Linked DNA regions of Homo sapiens: region 1 is linked to region 2. A link means that fine-mapping ties the variant in region 2 to the expression of a gene that starts in the linked region. Tissue or cell type: whole blood. Region 2 holds a variant in brackets; the other region holds the start of a gene. All regions are shown on one strand. Distances are between the middles of the regions. Region 1 holds the start of SV2C-AS2 (SV2C antisense RNA 2). Region 2 overlaps SV2C (synaptic vesicle glycoprotein 2C).

Region 1 (10,455 bases), 17 kb after region 2:
TGACCCATTGTGCCAGGCTCCAAAAGATACTCTTATCCAAGGGTTTTAGGAGCTCAATGCCGGGAACTGGGGATGAAGACCAAATACTTATTCTTTACTTATACCTTATATTTAAGGCTGGAGATTATTACTAAAGTGCAATTTATTATCCAGAGGATTTAGCTATGCAAAAGGTGGGAAACTGTACCCCTGGACAGCAAATCAAAAACAAATCTACATTCCCTAAAACCTTAGCTGCTAGTTATAAGCATGACCTCAAAACCAGAAACCATCAGGGAGAAGGTTAAAAGAATTCTCTGGGTAAAACAAAATGTGAATTCCACACAGCAAAAAATACCATAGGCACATATAAATGATAAATTGAGGGCAGGAGGGGGTTGAAACAGAAATGAATTAATAACCTGAATATATAAATTGGAAATTCATAAAGAAATGTCAACAAACACTTAGCATATAAAAATGCTCAGCTTCACTAATAGTAAAAATTAATTACAAATTAAAGCAATTATGACATTTAGCTTTCTCCTATTATTCAGAGAAGACAATATTTAAAAGATAGATAAGATCCAGTGTTCTCTGGGGCAAGTGAGGGGTTACTGCTGAGTCTGTTGTGGGAATTCTGAAAACAGATACCACATTTGTAGAGGGGGATGATCTACAGTCTTAAGTATTTTTTCCCAATAGGAATAAACTATTGATTCCTCTGGTTGCTTTTCAGGTTTTTTCTTTGCCTGCCATGGATTTCTTTGGGTTTACTATGTTTGGGGTTTGCTCAGCTTCTTGAATCTGTAGGTTTACAGCTTTTGCCAAATTTATGAGGTTTTCAGCCATTATTTATTTTGTCAAAAAACAAAATTACAACAAATTTAGTGTAAAGAGCTAGTTGACTTTTATCTGCTATTCTAGAAGCAGGCAACACCTCACTCTATAAAATGGGGTGAGTGCTCTAATGAGCTGAGCAGAGAAAGTTGGCTTCATAGGCAGAAAAGCTCTAAAGAGAGCAGATACAGAGAACAAAAAGCAGATAGCCCTTTCAAAGTCCCTTTCTGTAAAGGGCTAAAACAGAGGGGACTTCCTTATTATGCTCATTTGGGTTGGCCGGAATCACCTGTTTTTTGGAAAACTGGCTCTTTTCAAAGTTCAATTTGATTAGGTGGCACTTAGCCTGAGTGACTCCATTCTGCTTAGGACTGGTCTGCTGTGGCCTAGGTGCAGGAGACTAGCCCAAAACAATGGCCTCCCGTAAAATTTAACTATTTGAATACTTTTTCAGTGCTGCCCTTTTTCTCTTCTGCCTGAACTCCAGCAACATAAATATTAGATCTTTTGTTATAGTTCCGCAGGTCCCTGATTTAGTTTGTTTTCTCTGTTCTTCACTTTAGATAGTTTCCATTGTTCTGTCTTCCAGTTCACTGGTTCTTTCCTCTGTCTCCTCCATTCTGCTGTTGAGCCCAACCACTAAGCTTTTTATTTTGGTTATCATATTTTTCAGTTCTAAAATTTTCATTTAGTTCTTCTTTATTTCTTCTACTTCTTTGCTAGGGCTTTCTATTTTTTCCATTTTTGCCGTGATGCTTTCTAAATTTCATGTGTTTCAAGTGTGTTCATAGTTGCTCATTGAAGCCTTATTATGGCTGCTTTAAAATATTCATCAGATAATTCTAACATCTCTGTCATATCAGTGTTGCCATCTATTGATTGTCTTTTTTCATTCTGTTTGAAATCTTCCTGTTTATTTGTATGACAAACAGTTTCTGATTGGAAGCAGTCATTTACATATTATGTTATGAGAATTTGGATCTTATTTAAGCCTTTTGCTTGAATTGGCTTTCTGTGACTCCTCTCTGGCAAGCGAAAGGGAGGCATTGCCTTATTATTACCAGGTGGACGTAGAAGTCCAGGTACTCCACTTAAGCTCCAGTGACACCCAAGAGTGGGCATTCTCATTACTGCTGGGAGTCCACACTCCCTTCCTGATCATGGATACCATGGGAGGGAGGGAAGGAGGAGCTCATTACCACCCAGCAGGGATGAAAGTCCCAGCTCCTTACTTACCCTTCTCTGATGGCATCCCAATGGTAGTGTTGACAGGTCTTCTTAGTTTCACAAGGGTGGAAGTCTAGGCTACCACCAGACCTTTGCTGATGTAGCTGGCAGTTGAGCTACAATTTTTTCCTGGTGTTTGGTCTGAGGAGAGAGGTTATTATCTAAAAGTTTTCTATCTTGCTAGACTGCCGTTTTCCTGGTCCTTGGGCTAGAGAGAGCAGGCTTTGGTTGTGGCTTTTCTTTTTCTGTGCCTATTGGCATTTCTGGGTTGGCAACTTGTTCGATTCCAAGTCTGAGATCTATGGAGCAGAAGGCAAACGCAGGGAACTCCCCATCCCCAAGCTCCCTAGCAGTTCTGCCTTTTTCCTCTTTCAGTCTTGTTCTGTTTGTTTTATATATAATGTGCAGGATATTTTGTTGTACTTATCAAGAAGAATAAGAAAAGTATATCTATTCCATCTCGGTGTGAATTTTAATACTGTTTGTTTATTTACTCAACAACTATTTTTTTGAGCACCTATGATACAACCGTGAGTAAATCAGTTGTGGTCTTTATTCTCATAAGCACAAGCAAACTTCAGTTGTAATATAGTGGTCAGGGTTATTACATGGGAAGTGCATGATGCTCAGAGCATCAGAGAGGTTTTCTTGAAAGAAGTTCCATTTAATTGAGATCTAGTAGGTGATAACCAGTCAAAAAGATGGAAAGAACATTTCAGTTAGAGCAAATACCAGCTAACAAGCTCTGGAAGTAAAAGAGTTACTCAAAGAACAAGTCATGAAGACTCTTTCACATTGCCTTATTGTGTGGGGACGGGGAGACTTTGAGCTGTCTTACAGAGAATGACAAGATCATTCTTGGCCTTTAGAGAGCTCCCTCTAATGGCCAGAAAGAAGGCAGGGAGGCTGGTTAAGACACTTAAGTTGTAGGTTGGAGGCCGGGCACGGTGGCTCACGTCTGTAATCCCAGCACTTTGGGAGGCCAAGGCAGGCGGATTACGAGGTCAGGAGATCGAGACCATCCTGGCTAACAAGGTGAAACCCCGTCTCTACTAAAAATACAAAAAATTAGCCAGGCATCGTGGCTGGCGCCTGTAGTCCCAGCCACTCGGGAGGCTGAGGCAGGAGAATGGCGTGAACCCGGGAGGCGGAGCTTGCAGTGAGCCGAGATCGCACCACTGTGCTCCAGCCTGGGCGACAGAGCGAAACTCCATCTCAAAAAAAAAAAAAAAAAAAAAAAAAACAGAAAGAAAGAAAGAAAAATGTAGGTTGGAAAGGGGAAAAGTCAACACTCAACATGTTCACAGATATTTAGGGATACATTCAACAAAGCTTGGTGCTTGATTAGATGTTAGGGGGAAGAAAAGAGGTTGTCAAAGAAAGATGATTCCAGTTTCTGCGTGTACAGTTGAGTGAATGGAGATGGCAGGTTTTGTTTATGTTTTTTAATTTTAAAAACCACCTGCAGGAGCACAATGGCATTTTGAGGCTGGGACACAGGAGGGACAGTGGGTCTGGGCTGTGGTCAAGAAGGTAATAAGTTCCATTTTGGACATGTTGAGTTTTTACATCAACCTGGGGCTGTCCGATTGGCATTTGAATATTTTTGTTTGGATGCCAGAAAGATACCTGAGCTGGGGATAGAGAGGTCATTCACTATTTCATTCAAAAAAAAAAAATGATTATGGAATGCATATCCTGTGCCAGGAACTATTTTAGTCATTGGGAGACAGCAGTGAACAAAACAGACAGAAAGCTTTGCCTTGATAGAGCTTATATTCTATAATAGTTTGAGGAAGACAGTCCAACAAACAGATAAGTAAAGTAGATGTAGTATATTGGATGGTGCTAAGTGCTGTAGAGAAAAATAAAGCTACGTGGAGCATAGAGAATGCTGGGGTAAGGAGAGTTACAACTGTAAATAGAATGGTCTAGGGGGATGTGACTGTAAAGCTGACATTTGAGCAAAGACCCAGGCAGACATCTGGAGAGAGTGTATTCACAGCAGAGGCAACAGCAGGTGCAAAGGTCCTGAGGTGGGAGTGTGAGAGACCAGTTGGAAGAGAGGCAAAGCTTGTCTGGCTGGAGCAGAATGACCAAGGTAGAGGGTAAGAAGCCATGGGGTCAGAGTGGACAATAAAAGGGCTTTGGTCTTCTTGCTGAGTAAAATGAAATCCAATGTGGGGTTTGGGGGCAGATGAGTGACATGAACTGACTTATGAAGTCCACAGCAAGAAATGTGGCAAGAGGTAATGGTGCCAATGGAGGTGGTGAGAAAGTGGTTAGATTCTGAAAATATGTCTAAGAGAGAGACCTGGAATAGTTCAAGTCAAAGGAAACAGAAAACAAAGGCCTCCATAGAAATAACATGTCTGAGAGGCAAGAGTTGGAGTCTGGGGGTAAATCCATCAACGTAAGAAAATCCAGAGGTAACACAGATCTGGACTAAGAAATAACAGACACCAGAGTTAGGATACCAGGCCAGGAGACAAGAGTTCAGTGAGCTAGAAACTCAGGCTGGCAGAGTGGAATACAAAAAAACTAGCCTGGAAGCAAGTGGTCAAAGTATTAAGATGTCTTGATCTTCAAAAATGGTGTATGACATTGAGAGAAGGCTTTGCAAGTTAGACTTCCCTATAACCTCTGTGCTTAGGTCAGTAGGGCAGTAGTAGTTTGCAGCTGGTTCTCAATGACATTCATTGGACTGACTTGCCCAGGGCTAGAACTCACCTCAGGTAGAGGCAAGATATCAGAACTGTCTGCAGTGGAAGTTGAAGGCACCTCTCTGCTCATGCACTCACCTTGGTCAGTCACCTCTATCTTGATCCTAAACCTTCTTCCCAACTCTGTAGTAATAGCCTGAGATTCTTGCCAAGGCCAGCTTCCCAGTGCTGTGGTACGTCTGCCACAATGATTGAGATGCAGTGGTCGATGCAGTGCCCTTCTCCCCAAGGCTCTTAATTCTTAGGCGTAGACTTGAAGAAGCCAGGAATACTTGTACTTCTGCAGGGATGAGTGAGGTGAAGCGGGAAGACGGAAAAGCAAATGTTGCATTCAGGAATTTGTCCTTGATTGTGAGGCTGGAAAGACAAGATTGCTTTGAGAAGCATTATGAGGAAAGAAATGAAGAGCAGGGCAAAATGATAGACCTTTGAAGTTTGAGCCATTATTGAATATACAAGTCATTGTATAGTCTTTTAACAGTTTCTACATCAGCCCCTCACCTGTGTCAAAGATAAGCAGAGAGCCTATTATATGTAATGTAGATCACAAACAATTGATGTGGCATGAGATTCTTCTAATAGACATGAAATATGAATGTGACATGAGCCAGACATAGAATGGATTTTCCAGCTTGCCGTAAATCTGAAAGGAGCCCCAACCATCTAACATACTGGTGTGGGGGAGCTTCCTTTTCCCTCATTTCTCCGTCCCCAGTCCCTGCCACCAGCAAAATTACTTTCAACCCTCTTTGCGGTAGAACTGAGAACACCAACAGAAGATGCATTTCATTTTTTGGGTTTAGTCTGTGCTGGTCAGCTTCCCTCAATACCCTAACTGGGAAAAATAAGTCAATTTTCCCTCATCTCTTGAAGTCTTCAAAATGAAAGTATATGTAATGACAGGTTGAAATGGATTTTTTCCATCCATCAGGGTCCCTACTTTTCTCTCCCTGCTTTGTGAAAGTTGTAAATCTCTCAAAAGTCATAAATGTAGCTCCCGCGGTGTAGGCCTGTTCCAGCTCATTCCAGTTCTAGGTTTTGGCCTTTATGTTTCTCTGCGTCCAGGTGTTAACTTTCTGCTGCCACTATGTGGCTGTGGCCAAGTCCCCTGCTCACATTTCCTGTGTGCTTATGGCTCAGGGGCCACTTTTTTTTTTTGGGGGGGGGGACAGGGTCTCACTCTGTCACCCAGGCTGGAGTGCAGTGACGCAATCTCCACTCACTGCAATCTCTGCTTCCCAGATTCAAGCAATTCTCCTGCCTCGGCCTCCTGAGTAACTGGGATTATAGGTGCCTTCCACCACTCCCAGCTAATTTTTGTATTTTTAATAGAGACGGGGTTTCACCGTGTTGGCCAGGCTGGTCTCGAACTCCTGACCTCAAGTGATCTGCCTGCCTCGGCCTCCCAACGTGCTGGGATTACAGACATGAGCCAGCGTGCCCAGCCATTAGGGGCCATCTTTACCCCTCCTCCGTGGCGCTCGGGGCCAGGAGCGCACACCTTGTGAGATGCAGCCCACGCTCTCAGGGCCGTCCTGCAACTCTGCACAGACTCCCAGGGCCAGGCAAGCCTGTCTCATGGTGTCGTTTGGCCGCATGTTCCTGCCTTTCTCTGCCTACCTTCTTCCCTTTTCTTTCCCCCTTATGCCCCCTTATGCATGCACAGTTTCAGACATGAGGTCAGAAAGGATTTGAGGATCTGATTGTTCACACCTGCCGATCCCTGAGAGTCCTGGGCAGCTGCTGCCATCACCCAGTGCAGTGGGATTGGTCTCTTCCTTGATGAGCTAAAATCAAAACATTTTCCCAGAATTAAGCAACCCAAGCCCTTCCCTTAGGACTGTCCTTGTTTTGACAGAGTTCTCTTGTTTCCTCCCCATTCTTCAGTTCCGAAGGTCTGTCATCTTGGATCTCTTACTGACCAGCTGTGCGACCTCAGGGACACCACTCAGCCTAGCTGGGCCTGGATTGTTTGAGATTTAAATGAGGAGTATGAAATAAATAGCATCTCAGGGCCTTTCTAGCTCTAGAATTCTCTTCACTGTCGTCATCTGGTATTCTGTAATGGCAATTTCATTCATTCTTTCTTGAATACATTCTACGTCTAATATAAAGATAAATATCTCACTTATTTGTGAAGATTTTGGTACAGAGGAATCTTTCAGCTATCGCGACTAACCAACCTATGTAATCCACTCCATCCCTGGCCCTCTGCTCTGCTTGATTTTTCCTTATACGCCTTATCATTATATTATATATGTTTATGCTTTGGCTATCCAGCAAAAGTCAGATTCATTTTGTCTCTGGTAGTTAGAAGTAGAGGGTGAAGGGGGTGGGGAATATATGCTTCCTGCTCCCACAACCTTGCCATCAGGCAATATATTACAATGGAAGCAAATCCTGCCAAGTGTACTAGCACAAAAACAGTCACAAAGTTTGTTTTTGAGCTCCAAGGAAGTCCATCTCGCTGTCCTTGGGTACTGAGCAAGCCCTTGCATGAAAGGGCCATGTGCTTGATATGCTGACAGCAGGGCCACCAGACTTGTGGGCCAGCTAAACAAGGGAATGCCCCTTTAATTGTGGGGTGCAGGATAAGGGGGCTCTAGAATCTGGAGTCTAGACCAGGAGTACCATTTCACCAACTTGAGGCTGCAGGGCTTGGAGGACGCTTGTATGTTCATTAGGCTAAGGGCAGAACATTCTTTCCAATCATTGCTTATACAGAACAGCACTCACATCATCAGTGAAAAAATCATCTCCGTGGTCATTAACAAACCTTCTCATGCAGATTTCTAAAATGATCTTTAAAGCACTAAGTAACCATCTCTGGCCTGTTGATTCTTGATTAATGTGCTTTAAATTATATGGGTATGCATTAGAGACAATTTATCTATCAATCATATTGTTTATACTGAAGTACTTAAAGGAAATTATCACCCAGACCTTATGATGAGAGGATGTTAGGTTGCATGTGTACTTGTTTAACTCACTAGAATGTTAGCTCCTTGAGGGCAAGACATTGTCTTCCTTATTTACTGCCATAACTCTAGGTGAATGAATGAATGAATGAATGAAATATGCATTTGAGAATTAATTTGGCTATGGATGATAGTTTTCCTCCCCGTATGGGGTCCAGCCTCCCAGCTTTCCAGAGTGAGCATTTGGGCCAGTGTAAGGGAGGGAGCACTGGTCTTCAGTCCTCTCTGCTGTCCTTTGGGTCCCTTTCCACTTCTTCCATCACAGCCTGAGACCTCCTGATCCTTCAGCTGTCAGCTCCCCGTTCCTCATAAAGCATTGCCTATTAGAGATCCACCTCCCCCTCTCCCTCTACTTCATCAACAAAGTGGAGGAAAGCACTGATCTAGGGGTCACTGAATTCAGGTGCAGTCACTGCCAGAAAAATAGCTGGATAATTTGGAAAAGGCCTTTCACCCTTCTGAGCCTTGGTTTCCTCATCTGTGTGGTGGAGGGTGGGTCGGGCATGATGCTGGAAATTTTAAATGATCTCAACTTATTTAATTCTCATCCCAATCCTGTAAGAGTAGGTATTCTTACCCCATGTTCAGGTGAGGAAAATGCGGCACAGAGAGGGGAAGTAACTTGTCCTGGATCACTTAGCCTTAAACCCAGATGTCTGACTCAGTGGTGCTGCTCCCAGCACAGACATATCTACCTCCCCTCCCAGTAGGTGTGGGAATCTATTTTTAAACAGCTCACTTGGCTGTTGGGATGCACAGCCATGTTCATGACCTTGGCCACAGATGAACTCCAAGGGGTGCTCAGTCATTCCATCATTATTTACCCTGGCCCAGGCCCTCACTCCCTAGCTAGGTTAATCAGATAAACAAGACATAAAGGCTCCCGTTATTACCTTCCCAGAATATTTGATTTCAACAGGAATAAGCAGTCAAAAGCCCCTTATGGTGGTGGAGATGGGAGGGAGATAAAGGGCTACTTGGGATCCAGGGATTCCTGTCAGCTCACAACTTGTAGGTGAGTCCTTCTCCACTTGAGTGTAAGGAAGGCCCTGCTCGAAGGGGTGCAGGGTGCCATCTTGCCCTCATTAAGGAACATGGCCAGGCGCACACACACACACACACACACACACACACACATAATAGATACTAGGGTAAGACAGATTTTTATCTTTCTTTGAAGATTAGAAAACAATTGCATTCAGTCTTTTCTGACTTAATATGAAATTCATTTTTTCTCTCTGAAAAAAAAAATATGATAGTCTGGTATCAAAAAAACAAATATGACCCAACTAATTTCCATTAAAATGTCTATTACAAAAATCGACTTCCAACATATTTGGAAGATCTCAGGAAATCTGTTAGCTCAGTCTTTCATTTAATAAGTAACATAGGTATCTGTACCGGTCCTGAGAAGAGGTGGTGCTGAGTGACTACAAAGGCTACCCAGCTCCACTCCCCCAGAGGTGACCTGGACCTAAACAAGGCTAATTCTGGACAAGGAGATGTGCAAGATTGGTATAAACCAGCCCTTGGAGGGGAGTGGGAAGGGTAGCGTGGAGGGAATCAAGTTGAGGCAACTGAGTAACAGTTGGAAGAGAAGGAAACAATTCAGGTTAGGTGAGAAGCTGCCTCTGGTGAAATGAATTAAGCTCTGTGCTGTGAGAAGCAGAATAAACAAGGGAGTTTAACAAGAGCCTAAGCAGGAAGGGAGAAGAAAAAAGGGATGGGAAGCCTTTGGGTTGGATCCCTCTCTCTCTCCTCTCCAGTGTGCAAAGCATACTTTGCTGGCCTCAGTATCCCCTGCATCACATCATAAACACTTTCCCTTGGATGTTTTATGCTGCTTGATATTCCCTAATGAACACACACAAACGAAGCAGGTCATATATGTGAAGGTGTTAATTGCAGAATCACTTGTTACCCCAAATTTGGAAAGCTCCCATTAGCCAATGGCATGGTTACAAGAATAATGGTTCCATGCTAAATAAATCATTTCATTTTAAACAAAACATCAACATGAGAAAACAGTAATATGAATGAAAAAAAAGCAGAAAGCAAAATTGTCTAAATCCTCTGATTTCCTGTGATTTATATGACTGGAAGTACACTAAAGGGAATTCAGAAATGAAAACCATTTGTCAGAAAGGTGGAGTGGATGTTTTGCTTTTATAATTTCCTTTGTATATGAAACCCACATCAATTCAAAGAATGCAGACATCCCTGGGAAGACAGCAGGATTCTCAACCCTGGATACACCTTCATGTCACGTGGAGCTTCTAAAAAATACTAATGCTTGGGCCCCAATAAAGCAATAAATTCAGAATCTCTGTGCATGTGGCCCTAGGCATCAGTATTGAACACATCACTAAGGTTTGAAAGCTCCTCCAGGTGATTCTGATGCACCCAAGCTTAAGCATCATTAGTTCAGGGCATGGTTATACGTGCACTTTGGTTCAATCAGATTGCTATCCTAATCCTAGGTTGAAAACACCTGCTTGGGAGTAGGAAATTTATTTAGGGGCTGGAGGGAGGTAAGCCGTTTAGCCCTCAAGAAGCCTTTAGGGGTGTGTCTAAGGCAAACCTGAGTGGGTACCATGAGGGAAGTTAGGGAGATGTGAGAGTACGGGGAGAGGCAGAGAACACCCCTATCCACATGCCATCCTTCTCCTGGCAAGCTCCTACTATTCCTTTCAGCACACTCCTAGTCT
Region 2 (10,455 bases):
TTCATTTTCAGCTAACTTCCACTTTAACCCTATTCACTCTCCTTAGCTGATCTCAGCTATTTCCTGCATGTATCCTAATGCACAAATCTCCTGAGCTCCACACATGCAGGTTGAAGGACTTTGTGGGCATCCTTCTAGATCACATAGGCCCTTCAAAAATGGCATCTTTGGGCAGTGAGGGGTGGGGAAAGATGGCATCTTTAAATCTGAATTTATCACCTAAGCAGTCTCCAAGCCTCATCATTGCCCTAAATTTCATCAGTAGGTACCACAAGCACCACCTAAACCCAAAAACTATATTCTTTCTTTTATCTTTGGTACATCTAAGAAACCATTATGTTCTATTATTCCACCTCCTAAATATCACTCCACTGCTGCTGATTTGGTGCAGTCCTCCTTATTCACTGCCCTCTGGCCTTCTACTATCCTTCAGGAATCGCGAACTCTTTGCAGTTTCCCGGTGCACTATTTTCCCTCCTAACTCTGGACATTTGTTTGCACATGGTATTTCTCCCACTTGGAATATCCTCCAAGCAGGTTACATCCATGGCAGATAGCGTATTTCTCTATAAGCCTGCAGTTCCTGAAGCCTCTCTCTCACTTCCAGGTTAAGTAGGTTGTTCTGAACAGTATTTCCTTCCCATCTTTTATAGATCCCCATTAGAGTACTTTTTTTCGTTTTGTATGGTAATTGTTTGGAGCCACATGGCTGCCTATGTTTGCATCCCGCATGGGTGCCAATGAATAAATGAACAAACAAATATCGATGAGTGAAAAAGCGGAAGCCTCCCAAAAGTAGTATGTTGGATTAAGACTATCCCATGATGTAAAAAGAAAAGAAAAAAAAACTTTTTAAATCTAGAGTTTTAAAAAACATAATTCCTACATGGATTATTTTGAGCCGATTGCATTTGATTTGGAATTCCATATTTAACTCAGAGATTATTTTTGCTAAGTACAGACATCTTTGTTTACCTGGCCAGAAAGAACCTACTGCCTACTTGGTATAATTTGAAAGGTGCTGAGGGTCCCCAAGCCACCTCTATCCAAAACTGGCCTAGGTACCTGTACTCTGCCAATAGAGTTACCCCTTTAAATGTTGGCAGGATGTCCGGAAAAACCTGTTCAAACCTCTGGCAGGGGTAATGTGTACACATTTCCATGTCCTCTCAGATTTATCAAAAACAGGTAAATCTTGATTAGCAGGAGAAGGCGGGTCAGGCCCACAAAGGACCCATTCTTCATTTTTTTCTATTTTCAGGATTCATTCTCTGTGCTTCTCCTATCTTGTGGTTCTCTTCCTTAGCAAAAAGAGGCTAACTGAGTCATAGATGCTGCTTTTCATGCTGAACCTCTATCATTTATTTCCCTTATATGGCTGAGAAATTCATGTTGATGCTTGCAGTCAAAAATCCTTCACTTAATCTTGAATCATGGCTACCTGTGGGTATTTGCTGACTAGCCACTGTGGGTTAGGCTGTGGGAGAAGGAAGAAAAGGACCGGAAGTGGTGCTCTGAGAATAGTGATGGGAATGCTTTCAGAACTATAGTTAGGGGTCAAATTCATCAAATAAGTAGGTTTCAAAGAAAAAAATGTGTAGACTCACTTTAGCCCAAGCTAAATAATTCTTAATCCAGAATCTAACTTATCTGGATGTTTTGTCTGCTAATGTGTGTCTCTGTAGTAATGGTTCAGGGAGGGCATTTTGGTTTCACATTATTCTATTACTACTTGCCCTTCCCCCATTTCTTTGTGGTTTTCCCTCTCACTCATTCCTTCTTCAGTTCTTCCAGGTGCTGTTTGGATCCATATACTTATGGCAGTGGTCTCATATATGTATGAACTGATTACCAAATACCGCCTACTTCTTGCCGGAGTCAGTTTTTGCTCCTGTAAAAACAAATTATAACCCTACACTCAGCAACTTCAGAGAAGGTAACTTAGCGCTTTGGTCTGTTTCTCTCTACAGGTAAACAAAATAAAAACTCCTAAACAAATAGATGAGCTGATTGAAATTGAGAGTGACACAGGAACATGGTATAGGAGGTGTTTTGTTCGGATCCGCACCGAGCTGTACGGAGTAAGTAACAAGTCCCATGATGACCTGCATGTTAATTTATTGCATTTGAGGTTAGTCAGAAGAGGGGTTTACTGGGCCTGCCCTATGAGCGAGGTTCTTTCCTGCTGCCCAGGACACCTGACTCCTGGACTAGAGCCAGGTAATTGGATCCCACTCGACCAGCATTTAGCCAATACATTCCATCTGTGGGAAGGGAAAGTGTTAGGCCAGGAGTCTTGGCAGTGGCAGGGTGCCTTCAAATCTTGAGTTACCTTGTCCATTGACATCCAGGAAGCTGAAGAATGAAAATTCCAATTACCTTTAACTTTTACATTTTAAGGTGAAATGAATCCAACCCAATGACAACTCAGCATTTTTTATAATTTGGTGGAAGGGGTCGGGGAGTGGGGTTGACTAAGTAACTGCATGAGAAAACTAACTCTCTAATATTTCACAGATTTGGTTGACTTTTATGAGATGTTTCAACTACCCAGTCAGGGATAATACAATAAAGCTTACAATTGTTTGGTTCACCCTGTCCTTTGGGTAAGTGATATTTAAATTCTTGGCAAGCAAAATCGTTCAATGTCCACATTGTAACTCCTAGCCATGCTGCTTTCTTTTCTGATACTGCTTGATGCTGTTAACCTGCTAAGGAAGAAATTTTTTTCAGCTTAGGTTTGCTGAGAGTTATGGTTTTTATAAACCAGTTATTTTATTTGTTTTGTCATAAAGCTAAGGTAGCAAAACCAATTGTATCTGCAAAATCCAGTAAGGCCCTGGATGATTTGCCCCATGACTTCTCTGTCCTGTCCTCCTTTGCCCAGCCCCAGCCATACCAGCCTCTCTGCTCTTCTTTGAACATTCTAGAACAGTTCCCATCTCGGGCCTTTGCGGTGTTCCTCTGCCTGAGTTGCTTTCCCCTCCAGACATCTGCCCAGTTCATTTCTTTACCCTCTTCAACTCTTTCCTCAGATGTCACCTTCTCAGTGATGTCATCCTCTCTTTTTAAAAAATTGCAGCCCCTCCACACTCCCTATCCCCTTCTCAGCTCTACTTTACCCCACAGCACTTTCTACCTTCTAATATGCAAAACACTCCTTTATTCTGTATAAAGAGTAAAGCTCTGGCTTCCCTCTCTGGAAGCTCCATGAGGACAGGGGTTTTTAACTGCCTTGTTCAAAGCTGAGTGTGGTGCCATCCACCTATATTCCAAGCTATTCTGGAAGCTGAGGTGAAGGATTGCTTGAGCCCAGGAGTTGGAAGCTTAAGAGTGTTATAATCACACCTGTTACTAGCCACTGCCCTCCAGCCTGGGCAACATATCAAGACCCCATTTCTAAAAAAATAATAATAATTTTGTTTATGTCTTGTTCACTGATGTATATTCCTGGCATGTAATAGCAGCTCAATAAATAGTTGTTGCCAAATGAATTAAACTGCCATATATGTGTTCCAGGAAAAGAGGAAATAGGGAGAAAATAACAAGATTTTATTTGTTAATCGCTGACATAGTCACTTTAGAATGTGTGTGTACAACTCTATTGTTGCCTAATTTGCTGTTTAGAAAAGAAAAATTAGATAATACTCTACACTTTCAGGTCAGCAGGAACTCAGTACCTTATAGAACCTAACATTTATGTTGCAAGTTTCATCTCTTAACATCCCTAAATCAAACCAGGCAAGTGATCTAAGGTGACCACTCTTTCTTAGTGCCTGAGGAGGTGGAATACGGAGAAAGAAGGAAGCTGGGAGTCAGGAGACCTAGCAGCCCATTCTGCTGGGTGACTTGGTTAGCTTGTGACTTGGAGACATTTCTCAGTTCCTCATTTCTAAATTAAGAGGGTTGACTTAGAATATGTAAAGTAATTCCCACCCAAGCTCTAGAAAATCCATTAATCTCTGAAGGAAGGGAAGGCTAAATATTAACCTATATTAAGTGCTTACTCTGTACCTAAGCAAGGGGTTAAAGACAAAGAAGACAAAGATAAGCAAGAAGGAAGTCCTGCTGTCAAGGTGTAAAGAGTAATCATCATTATCTGGCTTGTTTATTTTGTTTACTAATTCATTATTGATCATATTTTAAGCTTTATGATTTGTTTTACTGCTATATCCCTGGAACCTCAATAGTGCCTAGTATTTAGTGCGTGTTCGGTAAATGTTTGCTAAATAAATGACAAATTAGCCAAAAGCCCTCCACATCATTGATGATGGATGGACATTCCAAGGTAATGTGCCCTCCTCATTGTTGCCATTTCAAGGTTTGTGCCCCATGTATGTGACTAGAGAACAATGCCATAAATGTTGTACCCCTAAGTCATTTCTTCCTCAATAACTACCCTCACACCCCCACAGACATTACTATGAAGAAAAGGGGTGGGAATCCTGAGGCACAGATGTTTTTGGAATCCTAATGACAATGATGATAAAAACGACTCATACTGTCTTCTGAGCACTTTCTATGTGCTAGGTACTTGACATCCCATTTAAACTGAGCAACCACCCAGGAAGGTGGATATTCCCATCATTCCAATAGTAGAGATGGGCAACTGAGGCTTAGATAACTGGCCCAAGTTTAGGCAGCTAGTAAGCGACAAGACCAGGATTCAAACCCAGCCTGTCCTCCTGCAAAGGCTATGCCCATACTCTCTTCTTTCCCTGTGTAGCTAAGTGTCACTGGGAATAAACTAGAGCAGTGGTTCTCAAACTTGAACGTGCATCAGAAGAATCCCTGGAGGACTCCCCTGCCAAAGTTTTTAATTCATCAGGTCTCACTGGAACCTGGGTTTGTGGGGGATGATGATCCTGCTGGTCCGGGGACCTTATCTTATCTTAGGAGGTACTACTTTAGAGCAGCACAGTCTAATAGAGGTATCGTGTGAACCACAGATGTCATTTCAGATTTTCTGGTAGCCATACACACACACACAAAGTAAAAGGAAATAGATAAAATTAATTTTAATACTACATTTTGTTTCATTCATTCTCTCTCTCTTTTTTTTTTTTTTTTTTGATGGAGTCTCGCTCTTTTGCCAGGCTGGAGTGCATTGGCACGATATCGGCTCGCTGCAACCTCCGACTCCCTGGTTCAAGCTATTCTTCTGCCTCAGTTTCCTGAGTAGCTGGGACTACAGGCGTGCACCACCATGCCCGGCTAATTTTTGTATTTTTAGTAGAGGTAGGGTTTCACCATGTTGACCAGGCTGGTCTCGATCTCCTGACCTTGTGATCTGCCTGCCTCGGCCTCCCAAAGTGTTGGGATTATAGGCGTGAGCCACTGTCATTTCAACATATGATCAGTATAAAAATTATTAGCAACAATTTTTACCTTCTTTTTTTCCGTAAGTCTTCAAAATCCTGTGGTATTTTATATTTATAGTATATCTCAGTTTGAACCAGCCACATCTCAACTGCCTGGTAGGCACACGTGGTTAGTGGCTTCTGTACTGAACAGTACAGCAGCATGACACAGCTGTTAGAATAACACATTAGAGGTCAAGAGGCAGAAAGGGGAAATAACTTGGAATCTCTGAGAATAACACGAATGTCCTCTTCCCAGCCTCTAACTACCTTGGGAACTGGCATTCTACCCCCAGGATAGCAGTATCACAGCAGTGTAGGAACCAAGAAAGATTCCCCATTAGCAAAAGAGGTCATTCTTTAGGGGCT[C/G]TCACCGTGCTTGGATCCCAGGAGTTTGTACCACCAGACTAGGAGAGAGAGTTTCTCAGAGCAGACTGGAATGATGAGAAAGATATTGGGGCCAGGATGTCAGATGTCTTACTCCATTTCTGCTGCTATAACAAAATACCACAACAGGTAATTTGTAAATAATAGGAATTTTATTTTTCACAGTCCTGAAGACTGGAAGTCCAAGCTCAAGCTGCTGGCAGATTCAGTGTGCAGTAATGGCACAGTCTCTGCTTCCAAGATGGCAGCTTGTCGCTGAGTCCTCCAGAGGGGACAAATACTGTGTCCTCAGTGGTAGAAGGGATGGAAGGGAAAAAGTGAGAGAGGCAGCACCCTCGCACCTCTTTTTATAAGGACATTAATCTCATTCATGAGGTCTCTGCCCTCATAACTTAATCACCTCCTAAAGCCCCCACCTCTAATATTATTATACTGGGGTTTAAGTTCCAACACATAAGTTTTGGAAGGACACATTCAGACCAGGCACCATGTATGGGCATAGGATCGGATGCTTTCTGCATGTCTCTTCCCAAAGGAAGGGTTTAGGAATTACATACCTGGGGTTCTCCAGCTAACCATAGGCCATCTCTCAAGCTTGATTTTTGCAGATTAATGCTGGGGGAGAGGGACACATGGATTGCTGTATGATGAATTACTCATAATGTTATAGGGAGCCAGCCATTCTCCGGGAACTATTACCAGTCTGAAAACATCAGGGAGTTGCTCATTGCCTCTGGCATGCTAGTGCCTTTACAAACTCACATTTCTTTGTCTTTGCAGGTACTATGGATTATCCGTTTGGTTCCCTGATGTCATTAAACCTCTGCAGTCCGATGAATATGCATTGCTAACCAGAAATGTGGAGAGAGATAAATATGCAAATTTCACTATTAACTTTACAATGGAAAATCAGATTCATACTGGAATGGAATACGACAATGGCAGGTCTAGAAACTTGAAATAATTTAATTTGCTACCTATTCACAAAAACTTATTTCTTCTTAGCTTTCCCTGCACTGAAACAGGCATAGTTTTTTGTTTGTTTGTTTTAGTTTGTACATTTAGTCATTTTCATGATGAATTTCAATACTTCTTAATAGGCTTTAAATAAAAGGTACAAATGTATCCATTACTTCACTTAAAACTATTTTTGCAGCTAAGTTGCTTCATATTTATTAGGTAGTGGACTTGACTGGTGTGGAAGGAAAATTTAGAGCAATGTTGGAGAGCAACAAAAATAATGGAAGGAAGAGAAGAGTGAAGAGTATGGGAAAATAAGACAGGCTATAGGATTATTTAATTCACAGAAGAAATCTGAAATGTGATTATATGAGTCTTCTATTCCTGAGAAACAGAGCCACTTTTCAGAATTCATCCTTCCCAATACGCTGAATCCAGAATTGAGGTTAAATTGCATCAGGAAGAGTTTCAATTAGAGAACAGGAATCATTCCCCAAAGTAAAGGGCTTTGAAAGACGGAAGGGTCTCCTTTATGGGATCTGAAATACTTCTTGATGACAAGAGAGAACTGACTCAGGGAGGTGGTCCTGGGTCATTCTTTTAGAGATGGAAAAGAGTAGACCAAGTACTTGTTTATATCCAAGTATTTTTGTTGCCTGAACAAATAATTGCCAGTGTAAGTTCATGATAGTTTACATCATTCTTAGGAAGTTGTCCCAATTTCAAAAGTGATAAAATAAAACTCTAAAATAATCAAAGTTCCCCAGGGCAAAAACCAGTTCAGAAAGATGAAAAAGAATTCAGTGGGATGCTTATGATCTATGTAATGGAAAAGAGGGTTACTAACTAGGAGGTAATTGTTCAAATTAGCAATTCAATGAAGGAACTAATCATCATCCAAGCCAAGTGGGATCACCTTCACTCTCCCACATAAAATACTGACTTGAATCTGCACTTAGCATTTCACAGAAAGCTTAGTGTCAAGTCCTCTGTGATGCCAGGGTGAAAACTGACTTTCAAAAGTATTGTTACTCCATTAGAAATTTCTAATATATGTTTGTGTCTCTGACAGTCATATTTTTAGTAATATATGTTAAAGTTCTAAACTGGATACTCAGTCACTGCTTAGAACTTTTTTACATTAGCAATATAATGATTACTAATTTTAATAGTATTACAGTTTTTGTAAAACATATGTTACACATTTATTTTAAAAGATGATAGAAACAATTTTTTTGTCCTTCAGGAAAATTTGAAATACCATTAACGAAATTTTTTAAAAAATAGCTTTTTTATTCAGCATCATAAAATGGCAACTCTTTATATACTGATACGGAATAACCTCCAAGGTAGACTAGAAGGAGATAAAGCAGGTGTACTTTAGACACAGAATGCTCCTGGAGGAGCACACAAGAAACTGACAACAATGGTTATTCTGGGCAGAGGAACTTGTGGCCTGGGGATGGATGGGAAAAGACTGACTTTTTCCATTTTCAACCTTTCGAATTGTGCACCATGTGTACTCTCTGAATTATCCATTCAAAAAATAAAACTGATTCATTCCCTTTTCCAAATTCAGTTCCATGACAGAAAAAATTGATAACTTTTTAAAGATGTGCCATTATTTAGTCTCTTTTGGTGCATTTAGATGTTTTTACTCTGGGTCCCTGGAGTGGGGATTGAAACGAGATCATTATTATTATTTCCAGGTAATGTACCATGGGAATGATTTCTTTTTTAAGCTGATTGGTCTGTGAGGCCATGTGCATTTTGAACCAACACACGTAATTGGGTATTAGGGAGAGAATAAATTTGAAAGTACTCAATAGTTAGTAAACTGCTTTTAAATCAACCTACTTACCTAGAAGGATCAGTCCCTTTCTGCCCCTAATAAGAGTGGTATTGACATAACAACTCCTTCCCGAGGAGAACAAGCATTTTCCTCTCAGTGACTGGCTAAGTGTACATTCATAGTCTCTTAATAAAGTACCAGGACACGTTAATGAATATTTATCTGTGTCTGCTGGGAGTCCTTATCAATGCTGATAAGGCCTGGATCATGGACTCTTCTAAGATGTTATTATCATTATGACTGTTACCATTTTTACCACGTAGAATTCCCCCTTATAATACCCAAAAATATACCTGAACAGGTTTCATCATTCTTCATGTTTCCAAAAATAAGCAGAGTTCTCATAATTCCTTTTGGTTCAAGGACTATCTGTTGGCTGTGAGAAGAAAAATTATCCTGGAAATGAGCGTCACCTATGAGTTTCTTCAACCCCAAGTCAGTTATTCCTCACATAAATGAAACAGAATTCTCATGCTCTCTCTTCAGGATAATTACAGGTCCCTACACTAGAATGAAGAAGACTTGGATTTTCAGCTAGGGAAAAATAAAGTTATTAAAAGATCGGGTAGGAGGACATCCTTAAGTTAGAGCCATTAACCCCAAATAGAGAATATTCAAATAAAGATATACATGAAGAGACGATAGGATTAAAACCTAAAGAATAGCCCCAGGTAATCCCCAAACTATCTTCAGTTGCATACCCCACAAAACTTTTTACCAACATTACAAAAAGCTAAGGGAAGTTAGGAGTGTCATCTCTTTTCCTGGTGAAAAATAATATTGGTAAGCAATAAGATAGCCAAAGGTCAGCCTGGATGAGAAAAAGGGGAAAAAGCAGAGAGCTAAGAAAATCAAGAACTCTGTGTTCTTTATAATTAAGACAGTCCATAGTGGGGCATTCCATCTCTAAAACTATTTGACTTAGCTTTGAACTTTGATGGACACAGTCATTGATTGATATGAATTTTTCTGTGTGTTGGGCAGATTCATAGGGGTCAAGTTCAAATCTGTAACTTTCAAAGACTCTGTTTTTAAGTCCTGCACCTTTGAGGATGTAACTTCAGTGAACACCTACTTCAAGAACTGCACATTTATTGACACTGTTTTTGACAACACAGGTAGGTGTGCTACTTAGTACTGCCTCTACCTGAGGCCTCTCCAAAGGGCCCACTGTGATAACCATGTGATAATGTGGGCAGAGGCTTATGCGGGAAGTGGATATTAAAGAATAAATGGAACAAGTTCTCTAAATCAGGTTGGATCAAAGGTTGGCTTGTATTGTTTGTCTTTGTCAGATTTAGTGCAAATGGAGCTTGCCAAAGTTCAAAAGTTGGCAACAACAACAACAAAAAAATCCTTTGATGAATAAATTTTTAAAGCAAAGACCTAACCTGTAGTTTATTTGTTTTGATAATCCTGGGTTCAAAATCTGGTGTTTGTTTAAATGCCTCAACTCTATAGCCAACAGAGATAGACAACATGTGGCTATGCTCAGATACATATATATTTTGGCCAAATCCATATAATGGGGTATTTTAAACTCCCCAGGGGGAAAAAAAAGGAAGGCAAACAAGCATTGATTGAACACCTATATACTGTTTTCTACTCTAGGTCATTAGACATTCATTATCTCATTTAGTTTTCACAGTAGCTGAGGCTTAGGAAAGTTAAGTAATTTGTCCACAATTATAGAACTAGTAATAACAGATGTTTGAACCCAGATTTATTTGATTTCAAAGCCTGTGCCTTCCACTTTCCCACTCCCAAACATTGGTCTGTGTGTCCTATAAAATGAATCCAGCATAACAGCGTGGCATTGGCAGGAGCATCAGCATTTGCCCTGTTGCCAGACCTGCCTTCTTAGTGCTCAGACAAGGGCTCTGCCTAGCTCCAAAG

The links. PIP is the estimated chance that this variant, and not a neighbour inherited with it, causes the effect.
Region 1: it holds the start of SV2C-AS2, and the variant in region 2 is fine-mapped to the expression of SV2C-AS2 in whole blood (TOPMed, PIP above 0.99).

What each region holds. Positions count from the first base shown.
Region 1 is chr5:76,306,337-76,316,791 of GRCh38, forward strand. It overlaps SV2C-AS2 (SV2C antisense RNA 2), which reads right to left and starts at 5,293. Exons shown (of 4, transcript XR_001742750.2): 1 at 4,848-5,293. The region is part of intron 12 of SV2C (synaptic vesicle glycoprotein 2C); the gene reads left to right.
Region 2 is chr5:76,289,251-76,299,705 of GRCh38, forward strand. SV2C (synaptic vesicle glycoprotein 2C) reads left to right here. Exons shown (of 13, transcript NM_014979.4): 7 at 1,971-2,081; 8 at 2,518-2,606; 9 at 6,528-6,692; 10 at 9,544-9,677. SV2C-AS2 (SV2C antisense RNA 2) reads right to left here. Exons shown (of 4, transcript XR_001742750.2): 2 at 8,853-8,935; 3 at 6,510-6,594; 4 at 5,730-5,854. Among named protein-coding and RNA genes, the nearest start is that of SV2C-AS2, 17 kb to the right of the region's middle. RefSeq lists enhancers at 5,765-6,964, 6,944-7,826. The variant C/G (reference allele first, on the strand shown) is at 5,730.